Linked DNA regions of Homo sapiens: all the other regions are linked to region 2. Evidence: fine-mapped expression QTL. A gene starts in region 2. Each other region holds a variant in brackets. All regions are shown on one strand. Distances are from middle to middle. Region 1 overlaps SRGAP1 (SLIT-ROBO Rho GTPase activating protein 1). Region 2 holds the start of SRGAP1 (SLIT-ROBO Rho GTPase activating protein 1). Region 3 overlaps SRGAP1 (SLIT-ROBO Rho GTPase activating protein 1). Region 4 overlaps SRGAP1 (SLIT-ROBO Rho GTPase activating protein 1). Region 5 overlaps SRGAP1 (SLIT-ROBO Rho GTPase activating protein 1). Region 6 overlaps SRGAP1 (SLIT-ROBO Rho GTPase activating protein 1).

The links. PIP is the estimated chance that this variant, and not a neighbour inherited with it, causes the effect. A credible set is the group of variants that fine-mapping cannot tell apart.
Region 1: its variant is the best candidate, but not a certain one, in a credible set for the expression of SRGAP1 in monocytes (TOPMed, PIP 0.55).
Region 3: its variant is the best candidate, but not a certain one, in a credible set for the expression of SRGAP1 in blood mononuclear cells (TOPMed, PIP 0.65).
Region 4: its variant is the best candidate, but not a certain one, in a credible set for the expression of SRGAP1 in coronary artery (GTEx, PIP 0.51).
Region 5: its variant is the best candidate, but not a certain one, in a credible set for the expression of SRGAP1 in fibroblasts (GTEx, PIP 0.79).
Region 6: its variant is the best candidate, but not a certain one, in a credible set for the expression of SRGAP1 in monocytes after LPS (Fairfax 2014, PIP 0.57).

The regions. Positions count from the first base shown.
Region 1 is chr12:63,983,534-63,988,608 of GRCh38, reverse strand. SRGAP1 (SLIT-ROBO Rho GTPase activating protein 1) reads right to left here. Exons shown (of 22, transcript NM_020762.4): 2 at 4,467-4,662. Among named protein-coding and RNA genes, the nearest start is that of SRGAP1, 140 kb to the right of the region's middle. The variant T/C (reference allele first, on the strand shown) is at 2,946.
Region 2 is chr12:63,841,601-63,846,675 of GRCh38, reverse strand. It overlaps SRGAP1 (SLIT-ROBO Rho GTPase activating protein 1), which reads right to left and starts at 1,976. Exons shown (of 22, transcript NM_020762.4): 1 at 1,793-1,976. The coding sequence starts at 1,859. RefSeq lists silencers at 2,134-2,393, 2,504-2,563, 2,624-3,043 and enhancers at 1,970-2,469, 2,470-2,971.
Region 3 is chr12:63,991,530-63,996,604 of GRCh38, reverse strand. The region is part of intron 3 of SRGAP1 (SLIT-ROBO Rho GTPase activating protein 1); the gene reads right to left. LOC105369801 (a long non-coding RNA gene) reads left to right here. Exons shown (of 5, transcript XR_945023.3): 4 at 15-75; 5 at 820-900. Among named protein-coding and RNA genes, the nearest start is that of SRGAP1, 150 kb to the right of the region's middle. The variant C/T (reference allele first, on the strand shown) is at 3,056.
Region 4 is chr12:64,031,831-64,036,905 of GRCh38, reverse strand. All of the region lies in intron 4 of SRGAP1 (SLIT-ROBO Rho GTPase activating protein 1), which reads right to left. Among named protein-coding and RNA genes, the nearest start is that of KICS2, 190 kb to the left of the region's middle. The variant A/C (reference allele first, on the strand shown) is at 1,923.
Region 5 is chr12:64,122,012-64,127,086 of GRCh38, reverse strand. It overlaps SRGAP1 (SLIT-ROBO Rho GTPase activating protein 1), which reads right to left. Exons shown (of 22, transcript NM_020762.4): 19 at 930-1,110. The region is part of intron 1 of LOC105369798 (a long non-coding RNA gene); the gene reads left to right. Among named protein-coding and RNA genes, the nearest start is that of KICS2, 98 kb to the left of the region's middle. The variant AAG/G (reference allele first, on the strand shown) is at 2,758.
Region 6 is chr12:64,104,072-64,109,146 of GRCh38, reverse strand. SRGAP1 (SLIT-ROBO Rho GTPase activating protein 1) reads right to left here. Exons shown (of 22, transcript NM_020762.4): 16 at 110-215. The region is part of intron 1 of LOC105369798 (a long non-coding RNA gene); the gene reads left to right. Among named protein-coding and RNA genes, the nearest start is that of KICS2, 120 kb to the left of the region's middle. The variant C/T (reference allele first, on the strand shown) is at 3,042.

The DNA of each region.
Region 1 (5,075 bases), 140 kb before region 2:
AGGATTTAATACTGCATTAAGTCAATGCCCTCTCTAGAAGAAAATGAAAGTAGACAATGGAAGCAGGAATGGGCATAGGGAAAGAAGGCCTGATTTAGGCTCCTAGCACTTGGCACCCATGAGGGCAGCCTCCCATTCTTCCCATTGGCACACTGAAGAATTATACCCTCTACCCTGAGATCTCCCTTTTTTCTTAACACCATCAGGCAAAGAGCAGTGGTTCTATAACAGGTAATTGGAGCTTTTCTATTGAGAGTTCCTATCTACCCAGCCCTATATAACAAGGTAAATGTTACCTTATTTCTATTAACTTTCATGTAGATCTTCTTTGCTGAAGTAACCCACAAATTCTTTCAGAACATTTCATGCTTCAACATATCCTCAGGGCCTTGCCCCACAGTAAACATTAAATAAGTGTTATTTCACTCATTGCATAAATAATTATTATTGCCTTAGTAATAATAGCAGTAGTAGTAATATTGAAAATAATAATAGCTATCATTTAATGAGCACTTACTGTGAAAAGTAATATCCATGTCAAGCTCATGGCCTCTGGAGCTGCACTGTCTAGGTTCACATGCAGGACTACCCCTTACTAGCTATGAGATCTTGGGCAAATGATCTTAACTGCTCTGTGCCTCAGTTACTTTGTAGAATGGGTAAAATAACAGTGCTTATAAGATTGTTCATGAGAATCACTGGAGTTAACATATATTTTAAAATGCTTATAATAATGCCTTGTATACATGGTAAGTGCTATATAAAGTCAGCTGTTTTATCACGGGCTGGTATAAAGATTTTACAGACATCAACTCTACTTAATCCTTATTACTACCATTTGAGGCAGAGATTCTTTGTATCTTCTTTTTATTTATTTTTATTTTTTTAGATGGAGTTTTGCTCTTGTTGCCTAGGCTGGGCTGCAATGGTGTGATCTTGACTCACTGCAACCTTTTCCTCCGGGGTTCAAGCGATTCTCCTGGCTCAGCCTCCCAAGTAGCTGGGATTACAGGTGCCTGCCACCATGCCCGGCTAATTTTTGTATTTTTAGTAGAGACAGGTTTCACTATGTTGGTCAGGCTGGTCTTGAACTCCTGACCTCAGGTTATCCACCCATCTCAGCCTCCCAAAGTGCTGGGATTACAGGTGTGAGCCACCGCACCCGACCCTTTGTATCTTTTCTATCAGTGAAAGAATGGAAGCTTAGCAAGGCATACTGATTTGATAAAGACCAAAGCTAGTGTCTGAGAGAGTCTTTTTTTAGTCCAGGGAAGCTAAACCAAGCCTTGGTCTTTCCACTATGCAGTGGCATCTTTAGGCCAAAGAATGTTCTACACAATAAGTGTCCCAAAACTGAGTAAGAACCAGACTCCAGAATATAGCTTAAATGATTGGTAATGATATCATGCTAAAGACATAACATGTGTTTGGTTAAAAGGAGAAGGAATATCAAGTGCATATCCTGGGCTGGTTATCAATCGTATCAAAGAGTTTATCACATTTCTCACTTAAGGGTCATAAAACCTCATTTTACAAGTTAGGACACCAAGGCTCAGAGAGGTTAAGTAACTTAACCAAAGTCACAAAGTGGAGCCAATATTCAAACCCAAGTCTGGCTGACTTTTTTCCCAATCCTGTTTTATCCTTTTCAGAGACATATTCATCTTATCTTCAGTCCCATATTCAATAATAAACTTACTCAAATTAAAGAAAATTTCAAACTGCTTACCTTTTAAAGAAAACTACCAAATAAACCAAGAGAAACAAAAACGTGTCCATCCACCATGGGGCCAGATAAGGTACATGGACCCATCCATATTTTCCCTTCACAGCCACCAATTACCAAATGCAAAACACAGAAGATACTAAAAAATATTTACTGAATGGGCTGTGCACAGTGGCTCACACCTGTCATCCCTGTACTTTGGGAGGCTGAGGCAGGCGGATCACTTGAGGTCAGGAGTTCAAGACCAGCCTAGCCAGCATGGCAAAACCCTGTCTCTAGTAAAAATACAAAAATTAGCCAGGCGTGGTGGTGGGCACCTGTAATCCTGCTACTCGGGAGACTGAGGCAGAAGAATTGCTTGAACATGGGAGGAGGAGGTTGCAGTGAGCCGAGATTGCACCACTGCACTCCAGCCTGGGCGACAGAGCAAAACTCCATCTCAAAAAAAAAAAAAATTACTGAATAGATGAATGGGCTGTCTTCTTAATTACAACTGCTTTTTAAAAGCAACAGTTAAGTTACTATGTGAATACAGTACTGGCTCCAGCCTCTGCTTCCCAGCCCCGCTCTCTGTTAAATACATATAACATTTGTTCACCCTGGGGATCATCATTAAGATTTATTTTTATGCTGGACCAACAGTAAAGGTTAAAGTTGAGAGATTGTGTGTGTCGGGGGGGAGAGAGAGAAAGAGAGAGAAGAGAGAAAGGGAGAGGAAGAAAAAAGAGAAGAGAGGAGAGAGAGAGTGAAAGGGAGAGGAAGAAAAAAGAGAAGAGAGAAAAGAGAAGAGACAGAGAGGAGAGAAGAGGAGAGAAGAGAAAGGAAGAGAACAGAGAGGTATTTCTTATCCAGAATAGTTTTGTGTTTGCTTCTGCACAAGTAGCCCAGGGATAGTTCCCATCCCATTTTTTTATGCAGGGTCCAAGGTCATGGAGAGGTGTGAAATGAACGGAACTGCAAAGCCAATGGTGACAGAAAGGCATGCTTCTCCACAGCCCCTTCCAAACAGGAGCCCAGGCTGAGCAGCCAGGTCTTCTTGTTGTGCCCTGTGAAGGTGGGTAGAGGGGTTTCTGTTTTACCATTTCACTGAGATAGTAGCTCTTCTGGTTCTGGGATGCAATGCAATGGGGTTGGTGGGGAGGAAGCTCTCAGTTCCAAGTCTTTACTTGGCACAGACCTTATCTTCTCTGCCCCAAGTGAAATTAAAGGGTGGATACAA[T/C]TGCCACTTAGGTTTTCAGTTCCCTCTTCTTTTTTTGGCCCCTAGAAATTTATATGTAAAAGGATGTCCATTATATGTTAACCAGCATTTCTGAGAGTTTTCAGATAGACATGTTTTTCAGATGATCTGGCCTGCTGTATTTACAGAAATGAAAGCCTGCACTGTCTTTTTACTATCTCCAAAACAGGTCAACTTCTCTCTACCTGCAGTGTTCCTTCTCATGCCCTCAGGAAAAGGTCCCAACTGGCCAGGAAGATCCCCAGGTCCCCATGACCTCTGATTCACACCTGCAGCCATGCAGCTCATCGCCTCCCTACTCACTCCCACTGGACTACTTCTGTTCTGCAAACCTGCTGTACATCCCTTAGCCAGGCGTGGTACATTCCCTGCCGGCCCCTTGCCCATGATGTTTCCCTTGCCTGGAATATCCTCCTCTTCTCTCCTTTATTGACCAACTAGTCCTTCAGGTCTTTGCTTAGATGCCACTTCTTTCAGGACCTTCCCTTCCCCACCTCCAATGCAGAACAGATATCAGTTGGGTCTGTCCAGGGTCTCCCCCGCCTTCCCCTGTTGGAGCACTTGAATATTTCACTGGAGTTGTCTGCTTACTTGTCTTTCTCTGTCCTGAGGCCTTTTTTTTTTTTTTTTGAGATGGACTCTCACTCTATTGCCCAGCCTGGAGTGCAGTGTTGCAATCTCAGCTCACTGCAACCTCCGCCGCCCAGGTTCAAGCTATTCTCCTGCCTCAGCCTCCCGAGTGGCTGGCATTACAGGTGCATGCCACCACACCTGGCTAATTTTTGTATTTTTAGTAGAGACGGGGTTTCACCATATTGGTCAGGCTGGTCTTGAACTCCTGACCTCAGGTGATCCACCTGCCTTGGCCTCCCAAAGTGCTGGGATTACAGGTATGAGCCACCCCACCTGGCCCTGTCCCCAGGATTTAAATCATACATTAACTTTCATTAGCAGAACATCTTATGTGTGTTTTTTAAAGCAAATAAATCATAATTAAACTTACTTTATGCTCATTCATAGCATTTTCCTTAAAACTTTTGTTTTAAATCAGTGTCAATTACAATGACCATAAACATGATGGGCAGGAAGGGGGGCACAAAATTCAAGCAATTCTTACTGCTTACTTTCATATAAATTCACTAGAGAAAATTTGAGGTCTTTGCTTGAACAAAAACCTATTTTAAATCTGTCCTACCTATAGCAGATATCAACTCCCGGGTTTCTATAATCAAGAATTTTACAAACATATACCTTCTCTTCTGGCATATAAAGCTATCCATAAATATATATGTATTGGAAAGACAAAAGTGTCAACAGATTACACTAGTTTAAAATGATAAACTGATGCCCATAAGTTACAAATGTAGAGGGCTGCTTTTATTTATGAGAATATGCTCTACAACCACTACTCAGACAAAAATAGAAAAATAAAAAATCCACAAAGGTGGCAAAGGCAGTATGGATATCACCCTTGGAAAGGTGAATTAGATTCAAATCTCTTACTTGTATTGTTGATGATCCTTAGTGCTTCTTGTTTTTGCCATGAACCTTTCTGCTAACTTCTCTAGATTCCGGGAATATTCCGTCTCAATTTCAGCTTTTTTTCGGAAGAAATCTTGCAGATCCTGGAGAAGCTGAACTCGCATCTCCGTTTGCTGCTCCAGGCATTTTTGTTGTTCTACCAGTTGAGCTCGAATTTCTAAGGAGAGAAGAGAAGCCAATGGATGGTTACATTAAAATTAATGAGGTATGCTGGTATGTGCAAGATATAAGTCACGAAATATATATAAATATATATATATATATATATATATATATATATATATATATATATATATATATATATATTTTAAATGTATTTATTTATTTATTTTTGAGATAGAGGTCTCGCTCTGTTGCCCAGGCTGGAGTGCAGTGGCGCAATCTCGGTTCACTGTAACCTCTGCGTCCCGGGTTCAAGTGATTCTCCTGCCTCAGCCTCCTGAGTAGCTGAGACTACAGGCATGCACCACCAGGTAATCCACCCGCCTTGGCCTCCCAAAATGTTGGGATTACAGGCGTGAGTCACTGTGTCTGGCTATGACTCCTATTATTTATTTAGCTCTGTATTGG
Region 2 (5,075 bases):
GTGGAAGGAAGAAGTGTTGAAGGAAATAGGGAGAAGGTCATTCTCTGTGGGACAGACTTAGCTCCAAATGTGATTTTCACCATGTTCATGATTTTTCTTCCGTTTGAATTTGATAGACACATTGCAACACATCCCATTTCGCTGATTTTCAAATAAGGACTTGATCACTGGCAAGTGACCTTACAGCAAACATAAAGAAATCAACATTTGGAAGTGCATTTGCCAATTAGTGCTCTAGGCGGCAGAAAAACCAGACCGCCACCCCTTGAAGACCTGCCACAAAGAGCCATGTGGAAAAACTGCACAGAGAAATGGTGGTTGTGAACAAGAGTACTGCCCTGGAATGAAAGGTTTTAGGCTATGTTGGACTCACTGAAAAAAGAAAGGTTAGTCTCATTAGAAAGTTTACCTGGCTCTAAGAAAATAATTACTTATCTGCTAACACAACTTCCATAGCAATGAAACAAGTTCCTGTAAGTATAAATTATCACAATTCCAAGCAGACAAAAATCTGTGTCTCCTGAACACATTATAGGGGTCAGCCTATAGATAACTCCATTATAGGGGTCCTCCTAAAGATAACCTAAGTTATCTTGCATATTGTGTCTGCAGTGTCCACAATGAGTTGGTCTGTATTCACACTGGATGATACAGGATTTCTCCACCAGGTCCTCTCACAGGACTCCAGGCATTTTTACAACTTGACCACACAAAAGAACACTCAGGCTGCTCCTCCCTTGCTCAAGGGAAGTACAGTAATGCCTCTCTCCGTAGCCCTTTCATAAGACTGTGCATAGATAAACACAGGTGTATACATAGCAATCTTTATGAACTTTGCATTGAATGTGTCAAAGAACAGTGGCGGTCCCAACATTCCATCCATTGTCTCAATCAGGAAAGCTACTCCTGAGACCTCAGGAAAGAGGAGGAAAAAATTCAAGTAACACATATGTTTACGAAACACTTCAGTAACAAAACAAAATACTTGTATTGGAGAGAAAATATATATATTTTTAATCACAAGGCATAGAAAGTAAAAATAATCAGCCTTAATTAGGTTTCCTTCATTAGTTGACAATGTAAATGGACTGAAACTACTACTCAAATATTCAAACCTTCATTTTACATGCAAGTGGCTTCCAGAAAATGATAAAGCAATATTCCCATGTGAGTGTGAAAGATGGCAATGAATTCTGGCCCATTATAAAGGAAGAGTCAGATTCCACTAGTCACTGCTTCGTTTAACTGCCAGGCTTTTAGGGAGCTATTTAATAAAAGGGGTCTCGCCCTAATAAATTGTGAGCGGTGTAAATAGGTGAGTGGTGTAAATATCTGAAATAGCCTGCACTCAATGAGGCTGTAGACCGCTTGGGGTTCACAGACTTTACAAAAATCATTCCGTAAAAAAATTACGTAGTGACAATCCTACCATTTAAAAAGAATAATGATGGTGATAATAATAGCTGGACAGGATCCTCCACTGCTGCCTGCTTCCCACATAAGTTGCCCAGCTGAAGGTGGTTAAGTTAAAGCCAGTTCTCTCCCCATTAGAGATGCGGGCTGGCAGCTGGCGGGGGAAGTCACCCAGTTTCCAGCTCCCCGTGGGTTTGACGGGACTGGGATTGCAACTGGGAACTAACTGGCTTGTAGGAAGCCCAGGTGGCTCAGACAGGGCTCGAGCTGTCCCCTCACCACCTTCCTCCCACGCAGACACCAAGTTAGATACGCAACTCCACGAGCACAATGACAAGAAGGCACACAAAAGGAGCAAGGCAGCCGCTCCCATCCTTACCTTTGACTTGACTTTCATACTCGGCTATGATCTCTTTGTCCTTCTTGAATCGGCTCGGGGTGGACATTATCCAGCTGTTCCGGGTTTGCTTTCAATGGGCAAGTTTTGTTCAGTGGTCACAACCCGTTCTCCTTGGAGAGGCAGAGTTGTACTCCCACACGCAGGCAATCCAGAGGCAGCGCCGACCCGAGGGAAGGGAGGAGGGAGAGGAGAAGTAGGAGGAGGAGGGGAAAAAGAGCGAGTAGAGAGGACTAGATTAGCCCGGGCGCTGGCACCATACTCTCGAAATTGAGCTCCGTCGGTAATCCCAGGGGATCCCCGGGGGAGAGGCCGGACGCGCAGGCAAACTCCAGCCAGCGAGTGGCGGGGGACGTCTCCCTGCCCACCTCGCCGGGAGCCCGGCCACTTCCTCTACGGCCGCTGGGCGGGCGCGGGGCTCGCGCCGGCGCTCCGCACCATTGTTCGAGACCCGCACCGGGCGCCCGGGACAGGGCCAGCGGCGGAGGGCAGGCGCTGGGAACGCGCCCAGCTCGGGCGCCACAACCCTCCCTTCCTGCCTCCAGCTGTCGGCTCCGGCGCTCAAGGGTCCCGCCCGGGCTGGGGATGCTGCTGCCACGGCCGCCGCTCCTCTGCCCGCAGACACTGCCGCTACAGCTCGGCAGGCGAAAGGAATCGCAGTCCTGACGCGAGTCCCCGCTGCTGCTGAGAGGGTGAAGGCGGCGACGCTCAGACGCGCCCTGGGCACAGCCCCGGCGGAGTTTAGGTCTCCAGAGCCGGCGCCGCGAGGGGCCTCTGCCTCCCTGGCCGCGGTGCGCCGAGGCTGCCTTTCTCTGCGTCCCCCTTTCCGCTGCTGCCCCCAGGAGGCCGCTAGTGACAGGCACACTCGCACACGCACGCGGGAGCCGCGCCCCCGGCGGCAGCAAAGTTGAGGGTGCGCACACGGCTCGCGCCTCGCGGGCGCCCGGCTAGCGATCTGCGGGCGGTGGCTCCTCGGGGCTCCGCCAGGCGGGGCCAGGCTCGCGGGAGCGGACCGCGCTCCGGCCTGTGCCCTTCTCCGTCCAAGCTCCCGCCCCTGCTCCGCTAGGAAACGCCTGGCTGGTCCGGGAAGATGGATGCCTCTTGTGGCCAACCGCAGCCCGGCCCCGCGCGCCGAGCCCAGGAGGCCGTGGGCGGCGCCCCCGGCACCTCCCTCCGCCGAGGCCCCGCACCTCCCTCCGCCGAAGCCCCGCTCCACCGCTAGCCGAGGTCGCGGCTCCGGCGGCAGGAAAACCCCTTCCTGACCTGAGGGACCGCCTTCTGGCTCTGGCGGGGGCTCTGGTGGGGCTTTTGCCAGAATCTAATGGGGAAGTCCAGAGTTGGATGTATCCATGACACAAAGGGATGTTACTCCGAGACGCTGGACCCCAATAGAAAAACTGAACACTGAATTGTGAATGACCTGGCTGTTAATCCAAAGAGCGCGAAGCTCTTCAATCGAGGCGGAGAAAAACACCCACCTTGAACACCATATCCTCTATTCCTACAGTAGATAGGGAAGCTAGGATGGTAGGAAAGCGATGGTATGGAAACACGTCACACTTAACGGCGTTGTTAGCTTATTTATTTACTAAACTCCAGATTTTATTCCAATTTTACCAATTTTTTCGACTAGTGTCATTTTTTCTGTTCCAAGATCCAACACAGGACACTACATTGCACTTAGTACTTTTACGGTTGTTTTTGTTTTTGTTTTTTGATTTTGTTTTTTGGGGGTTTTTTTTGAGACGGGGTCTCACTCTCGCCCAGGCTGGAGTGCAGGGGCACGAGCTCCGCTCACTGCAACCTCCGCCTCCCGGGTTCAAGTGATTCTCCTGGCTCAGCCTCCAGAGTAGGTGTGACTACAGGCGCCCGCCACCGTGCCTGGGTAATTTTTGTATCTTTAGTAGAAACAGGGTTTTGCCATGTTGGTCAGGCTGGTCTTGAACTCCTGACCTCAAGTGATCCGCTCACCTCGGCCTCCCAAAGTGGTAGGATTACAGGTGTGAGCCACGGCGCCCGGCCACGTTTTTAATAGATACCTTTTACAAGATCTATCGTGTCTAGTCTCTTTTTATTTTATTTGTTTGTTTGTTTTCATTTTAGTACAGACGGGGGTCTCCCTATGTTGTCCAGGCTGGTCTCAAACTCTAGTCTCTTTTTGAACAATATAACGAAGAATTTACCTTGCCATCTTTGCATGGTTCAGGTGTTGTGTTAAGTACTTTAAATCCATCCTTGCCAGCCTTTTAAATTTTTTTTTATTATTTTTACTTTTTTGTAGAGATGAAGCCTTGCTCTATGGCCCAGGCTGGTCTCAAACTCCTGGCCTCAAAAGATTCTGGCTGGGCACGGTGGTTTACACCAGTAATCCCAGCACTTTGGGAGGCCGAGGTGGGCAGATCACAAGGTCAAGAGTCCGAGACCAGCCTGGCCAACATGGTGAAACCCCATCTCTACTAAAAATATAAAACTTAGCCGGGCATGGTGGCATGTGCCTATAATCCCAGCTACTCAGGAGGCGGAGGCAGGAGAATCGCTTGAACCCAGGAGGTGGAGGTTGCAGTGAGCCAAGATTGCACCACTGCACTCCAGCCTGGGCGACAGAGGGAGACTCCTTCTCAAAAAAAAAAAAAAAAAAAAAAAAGAAAATCCTCCGACCTCAGCCTCCCAAAGCACTGGGATTACAAGCATCAGCCACCACACCTGGTTCTGTTAGCCTTTTTGACTCACACCACTTGAGATATTTACTGACTCCTTTCAAATCAATTCTCAAATATTATGGGCCTGATTTATCAAAATGATGTGTCCAAAGGTGTATCCCCTCAAGTGTTTTCCCCACAAGATCTAAAGAAAGTAGGGACTTTTAGACTTTGATCATTCTTTCATGTATCCAGTGATCGGCTCTCCAGTTCTTAACTCTGTGCCAAACACCACGCTAGGAACTAGGGATTCAAAGATTAAGACTGCCGGAAAGGATCATGCAGTCTATTACTGTATAAATAAATAATTACAAGCAGTACAATAATGCTGTAAGAGATAGAAATACTCCCAGTCTTGGGAGCACTGGGGATGGAAAAACAGACTGCATAAGAGGATTGGGTGTAAGAGTTCGCAGAGGAGTGGTTTTGAGCTGGATTTAAAGGATGAATAGTAAGTAGCTGGCAACTTTAGGGAGGAAAAGGGATGCATTCCAGGGAAAAGGAAGAGTGTTATACTCTAGAGGAATTGCAAATAGAGTGACAAGATATCTTCCACTAAGATACCA
Region 3 (5,075 bases), 150 kb before region 2:
AATTAATTTTTCAGCGAATATATGACCTGTTTGTACATGACAACCATGACCATCATTACTCCAGAAAAGAAAACAGTAAGAATTTAATTCAAGACATGAAATTCTAACAAAATTCAAAGGCCACCCTCTGACTTGATAATTCTACTTCAAAAAATGTAGCATAAGAAAAAAAATCATAGATTTAAATGTCTAACAACAGAAAACTAACATGGCCATGCACATAGTAAAGTACTATGTAGTCATGAGGTAGCCTATTTCCAGATGTGAGAAATGCTAATAATATTCTATATGAAAATGGCACCTTTCCAAGCCATATAGAATGAAATCTCAATTCTGTAAAATATACACATATATATTTAAGTATATGTATACACATATAAATAGTGAAAAGATAGAGCCTAAAATTTAAAAGTAGTTAGTGTTAATATGGGTAATTATTATTTCTTTTTATATTTATAGCGTTTTCTAAATTTCTACAATCTATATCTATTTTTATATTCAAAGAGAAATAGGTTCTTTTTTCACATATAGAGATTGGTAGTTTTCAGATGCTTTTAACTTATGGTACTTTTTTTAAAAAAAAAAACAAGGTCAGAGCCTTAGAGATCTGTAGTCAAGTGGTATCTTTTATTAACTTCTACTAAAACATGTTTGAATATTAACCTATTTTAAATGGTGTATTTGAAACTACAGCTTTTCTCCTCCATAAAATATCTTTGCTTTTTTTTTCATGTTGGGGTATTTAAATAGAATATGGCTGTCTTTGATCAAAATAAAAAATAAGTATGAATCTTACTAGTAACCTTTCCTTTCTTTCAGATTAAGCCACACAATCAGCAATACCTAAAGTGAGTCAACTGAATTTCTGTGAGTCTGACTCTGACAACCTATGGGACTTATGCCAAAGAGGGGTTATTCTCACTGGCTTTGGGCCAGTTTCTGCTGCTTTGAATCCCTCCCTATAACTTGGATGATTGACAAATGTTGTGCCTCTTCCCAGAATATCATTCTTCAGTCTTTTCATAAGAATGACTAGGACAAGAACCATAGTGTCCTATTTCTCAGAAGTTTCTGACCCTATGCATTGGGTGACATCTCTACCACCAAAAAATACCAACAGAGTACATAGGAGCTATGAACTATCTAAGACATACGGGCAAAGACAAGAATACATGCTAGTCAGCCTGATGCTGCAATTTATACTCCTGAGCATTTTGTTTCCTTATCCCTGAAGTGTGGATATAATACCTGTTCTCTGGGCAGCTGTGAGGATATGTGAGCTAATTTATGAAAATGTAGAGTACAGTGCTTGGCACATAGCTAAAACTCAGTAAGTGGCAGCTTATAGATATCATTATTGGTGAAGAAACAAGATGAATTATATTGTACATGTATTTATGTAAACCAAGGAAGGATAAAAAATATTAATGATTTTAAAACAATCTTTGGGGAAATGACAGACTTCAAGGTAATTTAAAACCCATAGAGATAACCTAACATATTCAAATGCCACCATTTGATGGTATACCTCCAAACTACATACTTCTATTAACGTTCTTAAAATTGGTAAATAACACCTTGTGATTAGGTGCTTAAATAAAGTGATTATTGCAAGCTGGCTGGATAGCCTGTCCTGCAACTGTGACAGATGACATTAATTACATTTTTATGCGTAGCATATGAACTGCACATTTTCTGGCTGCAGAACCAAACCAGATGCAGAGTACTCTGTTTCAGCATGAGTAATGGAAAGAAGGAAGCAAAAGCTCATGACTGCAGAAGGCAGAGCTGGAGAACAGGGCAAGAGGCACATCAGCCCTGGTTCTTTGGGAAACAAGTGAGGGTTGAGAATGAAACAAGCCCTTGTGTAGCAGGAGCCTCCAAATTCTGACCTTCTCTTAAAATAGCTAAGCAGAACTTAAGAGGTTAAAAGCAGAGTACTCTCCTATCTGTGTTTACATTGTCTACATCTAGTAGAAGGTCTGGAATTAAATAACTCTTTTGTTGAATGAAGAAATCAATTCAGCCTCAAAGGTAAGGCGCTCCATGTGAAATGGCTGTGGGGGATTTGAGAGGCATGGAGTCTCGGCCAGCTTGTGCATTCACTTGGATACTCCCTGATTTCCCACTAAATGTTCAAAGGTGAGGACAAAACTCTTAATTTAGCCACAAACAATGCTGTTGTGAGGGCACTTATCACTGTTTGCTTACAAATATTGTTTGGAACTTCATAATAAGTAGTAAATAAAACTGATTCTCTGGAAGGGTTTTTCACATCATTATGATACTCTCCTTAGAATGAGGACACATTTGGTATAATATTTGGTATAATCTCACATTACATAATTATTGTAGGTATATAGAATAAGTGCTTATAATAGAGATAATAATAAAGATATTAGATAAAAGTTACCAGGACTTATTAAGTCCAGACACTAGGCTAAGTGGTTTTCCATATATAACTCATGAATCCTCTAAACGACTATCTGGAGTAGATTACTATATCCACTTTATAGCTGCAGAAACTGAGGCGTATTTACAAATATTCCCAAGTCCACACAGCTCCCAACAGTGGTAAAGCCAGGATTCATACCCAGAATATCTGATTTCAGAACCTAAAAGCTGAATCACTATTATTTTGACCAATAGGCTTCATTTAGAATTTTAAAGGCATAAATCTAAAATAATCAGTATTTGAATAGTTGAATATTGTTATTTTTAAAATGCTTCACTTTTTTTTTTTTTTAACCTGTTGAAAACTTTTGAGTTTAGGCAACTATGTCTATAACTGGTTCTGATGTAATTAAGATTTAAGTCTTGAAGCTGTTCCCTATAGCTCTGCATGGAATTATTTCTACAAGTGTCTTCTTGATTATTATATCCATTTAGACAGAAAAAAATTCCTGAAATTACCTGCTCCAAACTCCTTATCAGACAGAATAATTTGGGTAAATGATTTTTTGTCATTGACTAAACTGTATAAGATATGGCTGTTTAAGAGGCCAAAACTATCAGGCACACAGCATTTATTTGGATCTCCATACAGACATGGGGA[C/T]ATTATTGAAACATGCGGAAGTCTCAAAATCTTCTCCCCAAGGAAAACAAGCATTATGCTCACTAATGACTCCACAGCAGTTCTAAAGGCTGCTTCAGATTCACACTAATAATTTCTTTCCATTTTGATAGAAAATAGGCTTCTGACCTAGAACCATAACAATGGAAGAAGAGCTAGAAAAGAGGAAGATCGGTGATTAAAACCCATTTATGCCTAGTGTTCCACTATTGGAATGCTAAGCATGTGGGAGTAATTTGTATCTTGCTGGTCAAGGTAATTGCCAAGTTCTAATTGTAAAAATTAAAAAAATTGCAACCTCAGGCATAAATGGGTACAAAAAAAAAAGGCAGGAAAGACTTTCTAATCTAAAGGGACCTGGAATTCTTTGGACTTGGTAGATATAGATTCTGGCTTCCTATTCTTTCAGATGACAAATGTGTCCTAGGGGTTGATCTTACTCCTCCGTAAACTCTGATTTCTCCCTGTGTCCTTTGCCTCTCTTGTTCTTTCCTCTTCCAGCAATAACACAGATGGGAAGGTAAGGTCTGTAGTCTGCTGTGTTTGCTCGAGGAAGGCAGAACTTCACACCTGTAATTGTAATGACTTGTTACCCTTCCAGGTGGTCAGCAATGGTTAGGAATGAGAAAGCTGATCAGGAAGCATAGAGCATTCCCCCTACTAAATGCCAAAGTAACCAGGAATCCACTGTAAATAGGCAGTTTCCAAGGATGAAATTCTTTGAGAACCAGAAAATCTGGATAAGAAGAGAACTCCTGGTAGCAAGCAAGAAGACATATCTGTTTTTGTCTGTCTCTCTGTCTCTCTCTCTGCACGTGTGTGTGTGTGTGTGTGTGTGTGTGTGTGTGTGTGTGTGTGTGTGTGTGTGTGTATTTACTGTGCATTCTCCAGGCCATTCCTCAAGAGCCAGCAACTCATTCCTCCAACTACTGGGAATACCGGCTGCTAGCTGTTGAAACTCAGAGCTGATCCCTCTCTGGGAATTACCCTCCACCAAAGGGAGCTGCCTCACTCCAAGATTACTTAATCCCTCCCCAAAACAAAGGCCAAGTCTCCTTGCCTGGATATGAGATCACTCCAAATGCCATGCCAGCCCCAGAGCACTCACAGGTGCAGCCTCTCCTTCTGCCCAATTTTGCCTTTCTTGCTTCCTCAAGAATGGAGAGCCTGCTCTTGAATCTCTGGAATGATCTCCCAAGATCACAAAGCAAGTATGCAGAAGGGCTGGGATTTAAATCCAAATCTGTTTGACTCTTAGCCCTAGGTTTCTATCAACTTTATCAAGCCCTTGACTCTGACTTACAAAATACACATCCTCACATTTTAGCAAGACGTACAAAGTCCCTTCTTACATGACCATCCTTTCTAGCTTCACATCCCATCACCCACTCCCATACGATCCCTGGTCCAATCATATCAAACTCTTTCCTTTCCCTGAACATGCTCATGCTCTCCTTTCCTGGAATAGCTCATTGTCCTTCTGTTAGATGAATGCCTCCTTCTCCTACAAGTCTCACTTCAAGTGTTCCCCTTTCTGAGAACAATTTCCTCATCCCCTAGGTAGAGTTAAGATCTCCAGCCTTCCAGTTCCATTTAGCGTAGTAACTGTTAATTACTGTAATGAGCTCCTTGCAGGCAGGGACATGTCTTTTAGCTCTGCTCCCCTAGCCAGGCATTTTAAAGATGCTTTGTTGAATGGATAAATAAATGAACTCAGTAGAGTTACTGGTCCTAGAGGCCCTGTCTGAATAAGAAGCATTATATAGTGCCATACAAATTTGGATAAATTGTGACCTCCTTGAGCACCAGGAATAGATTTTCTTCATCTTTGTAGCCTTTTCAGCACCTGTCATCGTAGTCTCCTGCCCATAGGAGATGCTCAGAAAAACCTGCTGAACCAAACGAGATCTCTGCATAAAGAGCTCATATACAAGAAAATTATTGCACTTTCACAGCTCTGTCTAAATTATTTTTTTAAAACTCTACTATTTAAGACGCATAG
Region 4 (5,075 bases), 190 kb before region 2:
GTCATGTTTATGTACCTTCAGATTCTTAAAACTGTCTCATATACAGTATGAGTAAAATAGGTGAGAATCAAATGAAGGATAAGAACCCATTTTATAGTAAGCTTGTCCATCCATTTATTCACTTAACAAATATTTATTAAACATCTACAATGCATCTGGCATTGTTCTTTTCTATCCTCGGCTTCCAAAATAGCACCAGCAATAAATACCTGGGATTGGACTAATGGGATGACAAATAGTTCTAAGTCATTTGTGAAATATGGTTAGTGTTGGAATTTATGGCCTCTCAGAAAAGAAATGATGTGGTGGTTTGGCAGGGAAGGGAGATGAAAAACAGTATGTTAGTGACAATATTTCCTAACTCTATATAGCCTGCTGCTTCACTAAATCCATTAATCACTAAAAGCTCTTCTGAGAAACTACATTCTTTGGGTTTCTTATCAACTACCTAAGATAAAGATCTATTTTCTACAATCAATACATAAGAGGACTCTAACTGTAGCTGAATTTCTGCAAGTGCCAGACTAACCAAACCACTGGGGTAATACCACAGCCTTGGAAGCCCACGCCCATTGTTTCCCAGGAAACTCTCAGGTGCGTGGGGAAAGCCACCAGGGCCACCTTCAGCTGAACCCCAGGAACCTAACACAGCCACAGTACCTCCCTCCAGGTCACAGCCTCTCTTTGGGCAAGCTGTCTCTCTGGCGGCTTGAGACAGTGGTAGTGGGCAGGAATTCCCTCAAAAAGAGCACTCAGGACACGTGTGCCATGATCTTTACATCTGCAATCTCCAGTCTTCTTGCTCTTTAGTATACCTGGCCAAACCCGCTGATGAACACAGACTCTGGAACCAGGAAGACCTGGATTTGAGTTCCAGTGCCATCAATTCTTAAGTGGGCAAGTTTCCTAATGCCCCTGAGCTCCAGTTCCTTCGAGGTAAAATGGGGATGAAATGACAGAATGTAAGCACACAGCACGGTGGGTAGTTATGATTCTTGACAGTGTCTAAGGTATGATGTAGAAGTAACAGTGCAGGCTTTGGGCCTTCATATCCAGGCTCTAAGCAGATAGGTGCAGGCCACTGTCTCCCAAAGGCAAAGCAGCAGAGAGAACTGAGGTACAATAAAAGCAGACCAACAGATGCCTTTTTGCTATTTCATGTTGAGAACTGGGCTAGCACAAACCTCATAAAAACTAAAACAATATATCAGTAAGGATGGCCTTGGAGGCGACTGCAAAGACACACATTTATAAAACACTCCTGAATTCACACTTTGGAAATGCTTTTGGCCTGTCTACACACACCTCTTATAATTAGCGCCTTTTTCAATGTATGGTGACAGTTACTCTAGAATCAGGTAGACATTAGCCCAGGTTTCAGGGTGCAATGTATACTGATTTTATTTATTCATCCACCAAACAGCTACTGAGTGTCTGAATACCAGACACTGTGCTAGGCCTTGAGACTAGAGATGAAAGACATAATCTCTCCCCAGTAGGGGTGACACAAAGGCCAGCCTACTCTTACTGCACTACAAATAGGAAGTGGATATATGCAGAGGTGGGAGAGGGGCAGTTGCTGGACTTCAGGGTAGGCTGAGTGAGAATTAGGTAGAGAAAAATTCCCAGGCTTCTTTGTAATCAGCTTATATTTAAGTCTGGAAGCCCATTTAGGGAGAGAAAAAAATGGATAATATATTTCATTTATATAAAGGATATAAAGGCATGAGAAGCCAGCCCTTAACATACACCTACAATGGATGTCTCTGTTTCTCAGTTCCCATCCCATCCCCCACCTCCCACTTAAGGCCTGCAAGTGAAACCAGAAAGTTTTTTTTCTTTTCTTTTTTTTTTTTTTTTCTTGTTCCCAGCATCAGGGCTGAAAGAGTTGCTGATCCCTGAGGTCATGAGTGGCCAGCAGG[A/C]CTGTTACAATGATAAACTTTCACAAACCCACCTTCTCTCCCTGGGCCAATGTGGCTCTTCATAAATCAGTGAAAGCAAAGTTTACAAAACTTCAATTACACTTGCAAAGCAGCATTTATAGGACAATTCAGTTTGAGTAGTAGCATACTCATGGTTAAGAGCTCCGACTCATGAGACAGACTGCCTGGGTTCAAATCCTGCCTCTGCCCTTACTTGCTGTGAGGTCTTTGGCAAGTAACCTAACCTTTCTGTGCCTCAATTTCCTTACTGTAAAATCAGAATTACAATATTACTCACTGCCTAAGGTGGTGGGGGGGATAAAATGTGTTAACACATACGAAGAGCACAGAAGAGGCTGACATATAAGTGCACAGTAAATGTCAGCTATTGATATTTGAAAAGAATGCCATTAAATAATTCATTTCAATAACAGGTCATAATTTTTCCATGATTGGAGGGATTGTTGTTTCTAATAGAGGTAAAAGGAAGAAAATCAGCAATATTTCCATTTATATACTACTCTGCTTTTGCACTGCTATAGAGAACCACCTGAGACTGGGTAATTTATAAAGAGAAAGGATTAATTGACTCACAGTTCTGCAGGCTGTATAGGAAGCATGGCTGGGGAGGCTTCAGGAAACTTACAATCATGGTGGAAGGTGAAGGGGAAGCAGGCATGTCTTATGTGTCCAGAGAAGGAGGAAGAGGGCAAAGGGGGAGGTGCTACACACTTTTAAACAGCCAGATCTTGTGAGAACTCTATCATGAGACAGCACGAGCAGGATGGTGCTAAACCATCAGAAACCACCCCCATGATCCAATCACCTCCCACCAGGTCCCACCTCCAACACTGGGTATTACAATTCAACATGAGATTTGGTTGGGGACACGGAGCCAAACCATATCAGTGAATATGTTAAGAATTTTAGCAAAGCTCTTTATTTATTTATTTATTGAGACAGAGTCTCACTCTGTCACCAGGCTGGAGTGTAGTGGTGTGATCTCGGCTCATTGCAACCTCCACTACCCCCTCACACCGGGTTCAAGCAATTCTCCTGCCTCAGCCTCCTGAGTAGCTGGGATTACAGGCGCCTGCCACTGTGAGTGGCTAATTCTTGTATTTTTAGTAGAGATGGGGTTTCACCATCTTGGTCAGGCTGGTCTTGAACTCCTGACCTCATGATCCACCTGCCTTGGCCTCCCAAAGTGTTGGGATTATAGGCGTGAGCCATCGCACCCAGTCTTATTTATTTATTTATTTCATTTAGATGGAGTCTCGCTCTGTAACCCAAGCTGAAGTGTAATGTCATGAGCTCGGCTCACTGCAACCTCCGCCTCCCGGGTTCAAACGATTCTCCTGCCTCAGCCCCCAGAGTAGCTGGGATAACAGGCATTCGCCACCATGCTGGGCTAATTTTTGTGTTTTTAGTAGAGATGGGGTTTCACCATGTTGACCAGGCTGGTCTTAACTCCTGACCTCAGGTGATCCGCCCCCACCACAGCCTCCCAAAGTGCTGGGATTACAGGCATGAGCCACCACACCTGGCCACAAAACTCTTTAGAATGAGCAAATAGACCAAGGTGAACAATTAAATAGCATGAGATACGGTCTTTAGGGCAAGTTTATCAAAGGAAATTTGAGATACGTTGTGACTCCACTGAAATGAAATCAGCATAACAGTTTGAATTTATCATCAAATTATATTTATAATCCAAACAAATGCTTTGAACAAAAGACACTGTCTGGGACTCTGCACCCTGCTGGCTAGGGACTGCCAAGTAACCAAATGACAGGGCAAACGAGATGCAGGGACTAAGTAAAACAAAGGGAAAAATGGAGAACACATATGCAAAGGGAGGAAATAAAGCTAAGAAACATCACAGAAATAATCAGCTTCTGTTCACTGTAGTGTTAATACTTTTGTTTCAGGAGTTATCATACAGAGCGGCATTTTTTTTCTTTTTTGGGGATTTAAAAAATATTTTTATTTGTAATTGACACAAAAAAATTGTACACATTTATGGGGTACAGTGTGATGTTTCCCTCTACACATACTTTGTATAATGATAAAAAATGACTAAAAAAGGTAATGTAGATAAAATGTTTGATGCAAAAATAACATTAATATTATATGAAAATATGTACATTGCTAAAAAGTAAAAGCACTGATACTCATACATTTAGATGGGTCAAATAATGCAGCAGAAAATTCACAGACAGGCTAAAGAAATGTTTGAAATGTGCTCAAGATCAATAATAAGTGAAGAAACATGAGGCAGAATTTTTTTTTTTTTTTTGCTTTGAAAGCTCATCTCACTTGTTTGTAATAGGAAATCACGTCATCCAGAATTTAAAAAGTGACTGTGGGGGCTTGTTGTCAGCTGTCGGGGGCAGGACTTATGTGCAGAGCTAGGTCCGTGGCTCTGGTCAAGGCACTGCCTTGGGTCACTCTGTGCTGGCCCAGGCCTGCTCCATGCCTGGCTGCTGGATAAACCAGTTCTCTTCTGACCCACAAAGCAATCCAATGGTGGGGCAAACTCAGGATCTCTCTCAGCCCAGAGATCTGACTGATGAGGCAGAGTTTTTAACTATTTGTAAAAAAATGAAAGTATCTCATACTACCATTGACACAGCCAGGTGGGAGGGGGTCACTGGAGAAACGCCAACTGGCCTGCCCATGGGATGGAACCTCGGCAAGTTTAGGCCCTTTGCAGTGGGAAGGAGCTGGTCCCTCCTCTTCCTGTGTAGAACCTGAGATTCAGTCTTCCAGTGGGAGAAGCACTGGAGCATGGGACACTGTCCCAGGGAGAGTTCTGTTTCCCCCTTTTCTTCCTTTTCACCAAATAAAACCCTGTCTTACTCACCATTCAAATTGTCTGTGAGCCTAAATTTTCATGGCCATGGGACAAAGAACCCTGTCTTTAGTTGAACTAAGGAAAAGTCCTGCAACACCATAGCATATTGAGATTTTGCCCCTAGTAAATTTACAGAGTAGCATTTTTAATGGAAAGGTCTATGAACAACAAACCTGGATTTTGGTCCTGGCTTTGCTGCAAAATAACTCTGTAACCTCAGCCTTTCTGACCCTCATCTATTAGAGATGACAACATGACAACATGAGGTCTCTCTACAGGATCAAAATTAGGGAGAC
Region 5 (5,075 bases), 280 kb before region 2:
TTGCTCCTAGGCTACAAACCTGCACAGCATGTTACTGTACTGAATGCTACAGGCAGTTGTAACACAATGGTGTAAACAAGTATTTGCGTATCTAAACATATCTAAACATAGAAAAGGTACAGTAAAAATAGGATATTAAATCCTATGGGACCACCATCATATATGTGGTCCATTGATGCTCAAAATGTCATTGTGTGGTACATGACTGTACAGATAGTTATGCAAATTTATTTTATATATGAATATATTTATATGTAGATATTTCAGATATATATGACTACATGTCTGCATATACACACATTTCTTGGCTTCCGAGATACACATTTTAACATTTCTGAAATTAGGCTGAATGATTCAGTCACTGTATACCTTTTGTGTGCTATATTTGTCTTTTCCTTAAAAAGCTACTTTTGGACTACACATTATTTTGCAACCTGTTTCTTTCACTTAATATGTTATGACTATCTTCCCATGTCTTTAAATACTTTTGAAATTAGAGCTTTCTCCTCAGCAAAAAACAAAACAAAACAAAAAACAGCATAGCAATGATTCCCTCTGACTTTAGGTCAGTGTCCTTCCTCTGGGGAATCTGGAATTGAAACGGTAAACAGACATCAAGAGAAGAGCACTGCTGTTTTTGGAATTACCAATGTCACTTCAGCTCTTAACACCATTCTATGCATAGGTTATTTTTCTAACAATCTGAAAGCTTCAGAAGATGTCTCCCCAGAGTTCTTGTTCCAAACCTCCTGGGCCCTGACTTACTGTTAGCAAAGAGCCACTGGCAAGGTAAGGAACTGTGCCTAGCTCTGAAGTTTTATCTCTGTAATCCCTTCTGCTCCTTTCTCACAAGACCAAGGTCAGTTTAAGAACAATGGCTGGAGTCCTCTATTGGGAGCACTCAGGCAATCAAAGTTGAGACTACTCACATATCCTGCACCACTATATACTGGTGAGGCACCAGCCCGTCAATCCCGTTGTGCCTGCCTTCCCACCAGTCCTCAGATGCACGGTGATACAGCAGCAGGGAGGCACCCTTCTTGAAGGATAGTTCTCTGGCAGACCGCCCAACATAGTCAAACTTGGCTATTGCTTCTATTGGCTCACATTCTACAACGAACACACCAGAAAACAGCGAGAAACAGGGTTGTTAGGAAGGCATGGTATCCTATCTGTGAGGGCTCTATGAGGCTTCAAATGATCAAGACCATTTTAATATCTAGACTGAACAGAGTCATCAACATATTATCAAGGCAGGAGAAAATAGAGGCTGTTTAAAAAGATACAGAAAAACATTATCTTGCTGTCATCAGTTTTTCAGACAAAGAAAAACTGAACACTGGATTTTCATTTCCACAGCCTCTTACTAGAGATATAATGACAGTCAAAAAAAAATACTTTAAACTTTGCAATAGGATATATAAAATCTCTCCTTGAGTTGTAATATCCTCCACAATTGCTTCAATATGATTTTGGCATTGATAGATGACACTGAGGGAATTTCCTTGTAACATGTTAATACCATTTATAACATGGAAAAAAATCACCATCTCAGAACATTAGGAAGTTTATGCTTTACCGGCTTACTTAAGAAAAAATCAAGTAAAATCACAATAAATAGTATGTGAATACATTTAATTTCCCCATGTGCTCTCTGGCACTATCAAATCTTCAAACTAACACTGACGGTAATCCCGATTTTTTTCTCTAGTATCAGTAACAAATTTTGGATCTTAACCATAAAACAAATATGCCTTAAATTGCCCTCTGTCCAAATTAAAAAAACAGATGCAAAATTTTTATTTTTCTTGAGATCAAAAGATATTCAAGGGAATGATGGTGAGTGAAAAAAGCCAATCTCAAAAGATTGCATACCATACAATTCCATTTATATAGCATTCTTCAAATGACATAATTATAGAGATAGAGAATATATTAGTGGTTGCCAGAGGTTGGGGATGGGAAGGTGATGGAGGGAAGCGGCCGTGGCTACAAAAGGTAGCACAAGGGTTCCTTGTAATGGAACTGTTTGTTATCTTGAGTATGGGTTGTGGTCACACAAAGCTATACATGTGATAAAACTGTACAGATCTAAGTAAACACACACACAAAGGAGTGCATGTAAGGCTGCTGAAACATTTATATAGTGAATGGTTTGTATCATTGTCAATTTCCTGCTTGTGAAATGATATTACAGTTTTGTAAGATATCACCATTGACAGAAACTGGCAGAAGGTATACGAGATCTCTCTGTATTGTTTTTTACAACAGCTTGTGAATCTACAATGATTTCAAAATAATAAGTTAGAAAAAAAAAGATATCAACTGCTAGACTTACAATTGGAATTCAGCTCTGATCTAATTCTGACCACAAATATTGAAGGCAAACAGGAGGACAGACTCAGCAACCAAAGAGGTGTTTCTTTGTGATTTATCTTACTGCAAGAAGCTCCTCAATTTGAGGCCTTATGATCTTTGCTCCCCTCTCCCACAAATACCTCATCCTTAGCCTTGTAATCAACAAAGGTGAGTAAACTTCTCTTCAATAATAAACAGGACAAAAAGGGGCCAAGGCAAGGGGCATATACTTACAGGAATATGCCTATGCAATGAACAATACATCATTTGCTAAAAACTGGGCATGCATTCATTTCCAAATACTCTAGAATACGTGTACACAGAAGAGATTAAAACCTGCCTATCTCAAAAATTCCCCGGGAAGTTGTCTTCTATTTGGTAGCAAACCTTCCCATTTAA[AAG/G]AGTTTATTCTTCCAAAAGTTTACTGCAATAGCCATTGTACTTATAATCATTGCATGAGAAATTCTTGGACAGACAGCTGGGCTTCTTTCTCATTTGATATATTCAAAATTCTCTGGGACATAGAAGGCGAAAGCATAAAAACCAACAAACATATTAAAAAGCTTAGGCTTCACCTTATTATATAAAGGCCCTGGCCAAATTTCAGCCAAACATTTTAAATAAAGACAAAGAAAAATGCCCCTTCTTTTTGCTTTGGATAATTTTTTTTTTCTTTTAAACAGTGACAGGGTCTTGCTACATTGCCAAGGCTGGTCTCAAACTGCTGGGCAACATAGCAATCCTCCAGCCATGGCCTCCCAAAGTGCTGGGATTATAGGTGCCTGGTCTCTAGTGGATAATGTTTGAGGCGAATAATATTTTGTATTGCAGAACCACAACACTATAATCTGCACAGTAGGCTTCCCAACAAAGTAGTTGTAAGGATAATGTTTAAAACAACAGTTTAAATCTTTTAGTGGCTGGGTGCAGTGGCTCTCGCCTGTAATCCCAGCACTTTGGGAGGCCAAGGCAGGAGGATCACTGTGTGGCCCAGGAGTTGGAGACCAGTCTGAACAACACAGTGAGGCCTCAGTTCTATAAAAATAAATAAATAAATAAATAAATAAATAAATAAATAAATAAATCCTTTAGCAATTGAATAAAACTTTTAGATTATATGTTAACACTCTGGTATTCCCCCAAATTATATTTTACCAAAACAATATAAATAGCAGCTTTATTAAACATCTATGTGTCTGCTTCATAGAGGAGGGACTATAACTTTATATTTAAAGGGAATGATCTCATTATAGTTCAAAACTTAAAGAATAAATCCTGGTTGACTTGAGATGACAGATACCCAAATATGTACCCCAGTTATTCCTATGAAAAAGAAATAAACACCCCATGGAAGAATGAAGACATGCTAGTTTTTGTTTTTTTGAGACAGGGTCTCATTTTGTCACCCATGCCGGATATAGTAGCACAATCATTGCTCACTGTAACCCCAAACTCCTGGGCTCAAGTGATCCTCCCACCTTAACTTCCTAAGTAGCTAGGACTACAGACGTGGCATGCTAATTTATTTACAAGAACTTCAGGACATGTAATTTGCAAATTCCTGTGTGAACACACCCACATATTTGTATTTGGCTTTACTTACAAAAATTAAAAGATACCAACACATGATACAGTATACAGTCTACATATACTTATGTTACAGAAATAAAGACAGAACCATTAATATTCTTTAATGACATTCAATCACACACTGTCAATGCTGGCCATTCAACATAGTTAAAACTATTCAACAGATATATACATATTTTATTATAATTGCACAATCACGACCTCTATGATCATCTCCTCTTATTATTATTTTATTTTATTTTGAGACAGACTCTTGTTCTGTTCCCAGGCTGGAGTGCAGTGGCGTGATCTTGGCTCACCACAACCTCTGCCTCCCGGGTTCAAGCGATTCTCATGCCTCAGCCTCTCGAGTAGCCGGGACTGCAGGCACGTGCCACCATGCCCCAATAATTTTTGTATTTTTAGTAGCAATGGGGTTTCACCATGTTGGCCAGGATGGTCTCGATCTCTTGACCTTGTGATCCGTCCACCTCGGCCTCCCAAAGTGCTGAGATTACACGTGTAAGCCACTGGGCCTGGCCTTATTATTTTTTTGAAACAAGCAACAGGATTATCAGACTCTGCTTATTTATTCAAATGTGGTCAGGTTATGACAGGATGACCAGATAAATCAGCAGAACATTTTATTGGCAATCCTAGTACATCAACTAGTAATTCTCAGCAATTTCATTATTTTTACTCTTTCTACTCCTGTGAGAGCCATTTCACAGTCAAGTGTCAATCAATAAGCTATTTACACACATCTTAGTCTGGTCATTGCAGAGCAAATCAATCTCAGGGCATGGTACACTGTGCCTCTTTCATATAGAAAGCCTCACAGTACTTCAAGGTCCTGCAGAGACTTCATAGAATGCTGCTACTGCTGCTATCAATAACAATAATAGTGAGAGTGCAACATGATCACTTAGTTTTCCTGCATGGGTAATATAATTTTGTGCAAAAGGGAAGACAATTCAACACAGCTGATTCCCTGACTGCCTGGTGCTGTCAAATCTTATATTTCCATTTCTTGTAATGTTATATAAAATGTGATCACACTTTCTCTTTGGAACCTTGCTGTTGCTGACATTTTTCCTCCTAGATCTGTTACCCACTGTCCTTGCAGAGAATGGTTTTGTTCTGTGATA
Region 6 (5,075 bases), 260 kb before region 2:
TTTTTCTCTTTGACTCTGCTGATAAATGGAACCCAACGTACATTTTACAGGATCGAAGAACAAAGACAGAATTCAGATGGGCCTTTTGTCAGAGCATTCAGGTACTTACTGATTGAGGAAGGCAAAGAGGTACCTCATCACTATAAGGACCGACCTGGGCAAAGTCAGGAGGAGTTTGCGGATGTGAAGCGCCCTCTCATAGAGATTATCTATTCCTACAGACAGAAGATGACATGGTCAGAGTCCTTTCACTTGCCACATTTAAAACAGAACACTGCAGTACATGTATTACCGGTACACATCTGAATATAAGCAACACCCTGCTCTTGTGTGAGATCCAATTGTAACCAAAACAGCGAATAAATGATCGGCTTGGGTATACCACCATTCCAGAGGGCATCTCCTCTGACCCTTACCGTTTTCTCCGATTTTCATGGACTTGGCTTTGAGTAATTTAGAGTCTTCTAGATTTAAAAACCATTTTTTCCTTTGCTGCTAATTCTAAATTTTGCATCTGATATGATTTCAACTTCTTGCTGCATGCTAACCAAAGTAGCTTTCTGGGGCATGGCACCTCTCCCCGAACTGTTATGCATTAATTCATCATATATTTGTCTATAATTATGATCCAGGCAATGTGCCAGGTTTAGAATCTCTCCTTTCTCAAAATTACCACTGCATTTTACTTATATGACTTTTCACCTTGTATTACATTATACCATCAATATTAGGAGAGCCCACCAGGTTTCAAGCACTAAGAATACATTAGCAATACAATTCCTGCCTTCATATGATGCATGTCCTGATGTTTATAGCTATTTATTTCCTTATCTCGTCTTCCCTGTGGGATGGTGAGCTCCCCCAAGACAGGATTACCTGAGACTAGTGTTATGCTACCTCTTTACCAGGAATACAAACTGTCTAAAGTGTCTGAATACTAAAGTGCTTGTGAACATCAGCAAAAAGGTTACTACTACAACACATTATTTGTATAATTCTCTATATATTTAAAAACACATTTTCACACTTGCTATCTAAGTTAAAAGGAATAATAAACTTTGCAGTAGGCAGGGCACACACTGTCATCCCCATTTATCAGATTAGGAAAATGAGAACTGGGCAAGTGGCATACCCAAGGTCAGCGGGCTAGAAGAGGCAGACCTGGGACTGCAACCTATGTGTCCTGTTTCATAAGTCTGTTTCACAAGTCTGTTTTCTGTTTCATAAGTCTGGTTGCCTTTCTTGGATCCCAAGACTACCACTTTGTAAAGCTGTACCTTTACAAAGTACAACTTTGAAGATACCCAATAAGCATACATTTGAGAAAATATTTCCAAAAAAGTATTATGTTTGAAAACAGTTCTGAAGCTTCCTATACTTTTATATCACCATATTGTTCTTAATTGCTTGAGATATTCATGAAAATACTTGAAAATTCTCAGTCCATAGCCTCTGACACCATAGTCAACTCATTCTCATTATTATTGTTGTTTTTTAAACCTTCTTCCACCTATAAATGTGGATAACTCTCAAAGATATCTACCTGGTTCTCCTCAATGGCAACCTCATCCAGTTGCAAGGTTACAAACATCACTTCTAAGATGATATCCTTGCTTCATTTTTCTCCCTTGAATGGGAAAGAAGTCCTGTAGTTTCTACTTCTAGATATCTCACTGCTAATTTTCTAACTGAAGTCTTGATTATTTCTAACTTAGACTATCAAAATACTCTCCTAACTCAGTTTCCCTTTCCGATTCCTCTTGTATCAGTGGTTCTCAACCTTGACTTGGATTCACTTGGGGAGATTAAAAATGCTGATGCCTGAGATTCTTTTATGCAGCCAGGGTTGAGAACCACTGTCTTAATTACTCTTGCTAAGCTTATTTCCCTGGAATCTTGAGTGCTGACCCCAGCTGTTTTCCACTTATTATCAAACTGGGCATTCTATTTTCCCTTTTGCATAGCTGAAAAGGTACGAAAAATCTATTAGGAATATTCTTGATTAACCAAGAATGAGCTGACAAAACAAGCAATAATTTATCAGGATTCCTGAGAAAAAACCACTTCCATTCCCACCTTTAAGTATGCCAAAGTTGGAACCGTAGCTCTGTCATCTTTTAGCAAATGCAATTTCAGAAACTCTTGAACCAGAATGTAAGTAAAACATTATCATGCAATTAACATTCTCATTCTTTCATTTTTATTCTTTCAATATAAATCTATAATTTATAATAGTGTGATCTTAGTAATACTGAATTGAATATACTACATTTTGCCTTTTTTATTTGTAAAATATTTCAAAATGGAGAAAATATAACGCTATGAACAAGGCAGATTAGGGTTACGTCTATTGCATACAAGCACTTTGTTAACATACTTCCCAGGCAATGGTCTTGATTTATTTTTCCCTGAAAAGAGGGAATAAGATGCTTAAAAAAGAAGTTATTCAACAGGTGTATAAATTCTCTCAGGCCACAATAACTCAATAATTAAGTTATCAACATTTCCACCCAGTTTGGTCCTGGTAGGATCAAGACATGTCCCAGAGTAAGCTGTTTATCTCCATGACAACTTCATGTGATATGTGCAAAACCACATTGTACAGAGAGGGAAGATGAAATGCCTAAACATGAAGTAATTTGCAAGTCATTGAGAATTTAATGGGAATTCTGTATCTTTAAATACTATTTCAACACAGCTGCATTATTATCTCATATCAGAAATTAACTGGTTGAATGCTTATTACCTAAAATAGCTGATTTTATAAAAAGTGTAATGTTGTTGCTGCTTTAAAGAAGACAAAGATGATTTAGCATACCTGTATCTAGAAAGTCTATCTCTAAAAATGAAAAAGAAAAAACTCTTCAAAAGCGAAATTATACATATTATGATTTATTCTTAAGACAACAATAAAACTTCTCCCGCTGTTTATTGAGAATCTTGGGTGTTTCAAAAGTGAAGTTTCCTCATTCTCCCAGCAAATCCTCATTTTAAAGTTAAGGTCGAGGCTAAGGTAAGAGAATTGCTTGAGCCCAGGAGTT[C/T]GAAGCTCCAGTGAGCTATGATCACACCACCACATTCTAGTCTGGGCAACAGAGGAATACATTGTCTCTAAAACAATTAATAATCATAAAGTTAAGGTCAACTATCAGGGACAGGAGTTTTGTAGCTTAACGCTAGTTTTAAAGTCCTAGAGTTAAAAACAAAAGGAAAGGAAAGGATGTAAAAAGAACCACTCTTACTATATTATTCATCTTTAATATTTGTCAAATCCCATAGACAGCAAGTCACTCTGGAGGCTACATTCTCTGTAACTACAGGACATAGGCATTAATTCCAAGAGATTTTGTTGTTGTTGTTGTTTTTGAGACAGAGTCTTACTCTGTCATCCAGGCTGGAGTGCAGTGGGGTGATGTCAGCTAACTGCAACCTCTGCCTCCCAGGTTCAAGTGATTCTGATACCTCAGGCTCCCAGGTAGCTGGGATTAGGAGCACCCACCACCATGCCTGACTAATTTTTGTATTTTTAGTAGAGAGGGGATTTTGCCACGTTGTCCAGGTTGGTCTCAAACTCCTGGCCTCAAGTGATCTGCCTGCCTCAGCCTCCCGAAGTGCTGGGATTACAGGTATGAGCCACCATCCCCGGCCTCAAGAAGTTTAATCTTAATTCAAGATCTTCTTGTTTCTATCTCTTGGTTCTAAACTTAGTCCCTCTACCTCTTAAAGGCAGTTTTAAAATTTTATTTAATAAGAATTGAGGGAACAAATATTTGTACAGCAGTTTCAGAGTAGCATTATTCATAATAACCAAAAGGTAGAGACAACCTAAATGTTCATCGACAGATGAGTGGATAAACAAAATGTGGTATGCACACACAATGCAGTATTATTCAGCCTTAAAAAGAAAAACATTTCTGACACATGCTGCAACATGCATGAGGCTTGAGGACACTATGCTAACTGAAGCCAGTCACCAAAAGAACAAGTATTATATGATTCCACTTATGTTAGGTACCTGGAATAGGCAAATGCATAGAGACAGAAAGCAGAAGAGATAAAGCCAGGGCCTGGGGCGGAGGTGCAGGAGGATGGGGAGTTATTGTTTGATGAGTACCGAGTTTCTGTTTGAGAAGATGAAAAAGTTCTAGAAATGGATAGTGGTGATAATTGTGAATGTACTTAATGCCACCGAACTGTACACTTAAAAATCGTTAACATGGTAAATTTTATATTTTTTATATATATATATATTTTTACCACAATAAAAGAATGAGGGGGCCTGTGGGATGCAAATGAAAGACTTCAGGGGAAAAGCAACAAGGACATAAGTGACACTAAAAAAACTAGATAAAGTTATATGAGGCAGATGTACATTCTCTTTAACTACAGTCAACACAAATCAAAGCAAAACAGAACTGCTGGCATTCCTGAAGTAGTAGCAAATCTGTTCGTCTCGAAGGCCTCTAACCGTGATGGCTGCGAGCAGGACTCCCAATTCTACCTGGCTGGCTGCTCAACAGGCGCGCAATGTGTATCCTACAGGAGCTTCGCTCTGGTACAAATGACTCATTTACTGTCCTGAGTCCAGTTAGTGGGCAAAATTTATGGTTGCTGCTGACACCCTGATGAATGTGTGTTCCTAGCTGGCTCTGAGTGTGGCAAATTTCACAATTTCATGCTGGAGGGAAAGATGGGTCTTTTCTTCCCCTCAGAAAAGTTGTCAGTGGGGAAAATCAGTATTTCACTTGGATTTCTTGTAAGCTGGGCTTTGTTTTCCACAATTCAAGGTCTCATGTAATTAGGTAAAAGTGGCATTCATCCAACCTTGATCACATGCTCAAAGCTCCCTGGGCTAATATATGTTTTTTTCCCAGCAATGCAAGATTCTCATGTTAGCGTCCCAACTTCCCAGCAGGCGGGTTAGATAGCTCCATGTAAATGCATGTGAAAAATTTACCATAAAACACAAGTTACTTCAGCAAATGGCAAAAAGTTCAAATGGTCATCACTCTGAAAATACTGGTTCTTCTGTGGACTATTTGTAGAAGTATTTGTTTGCCAGAAAATGAATAATAAAT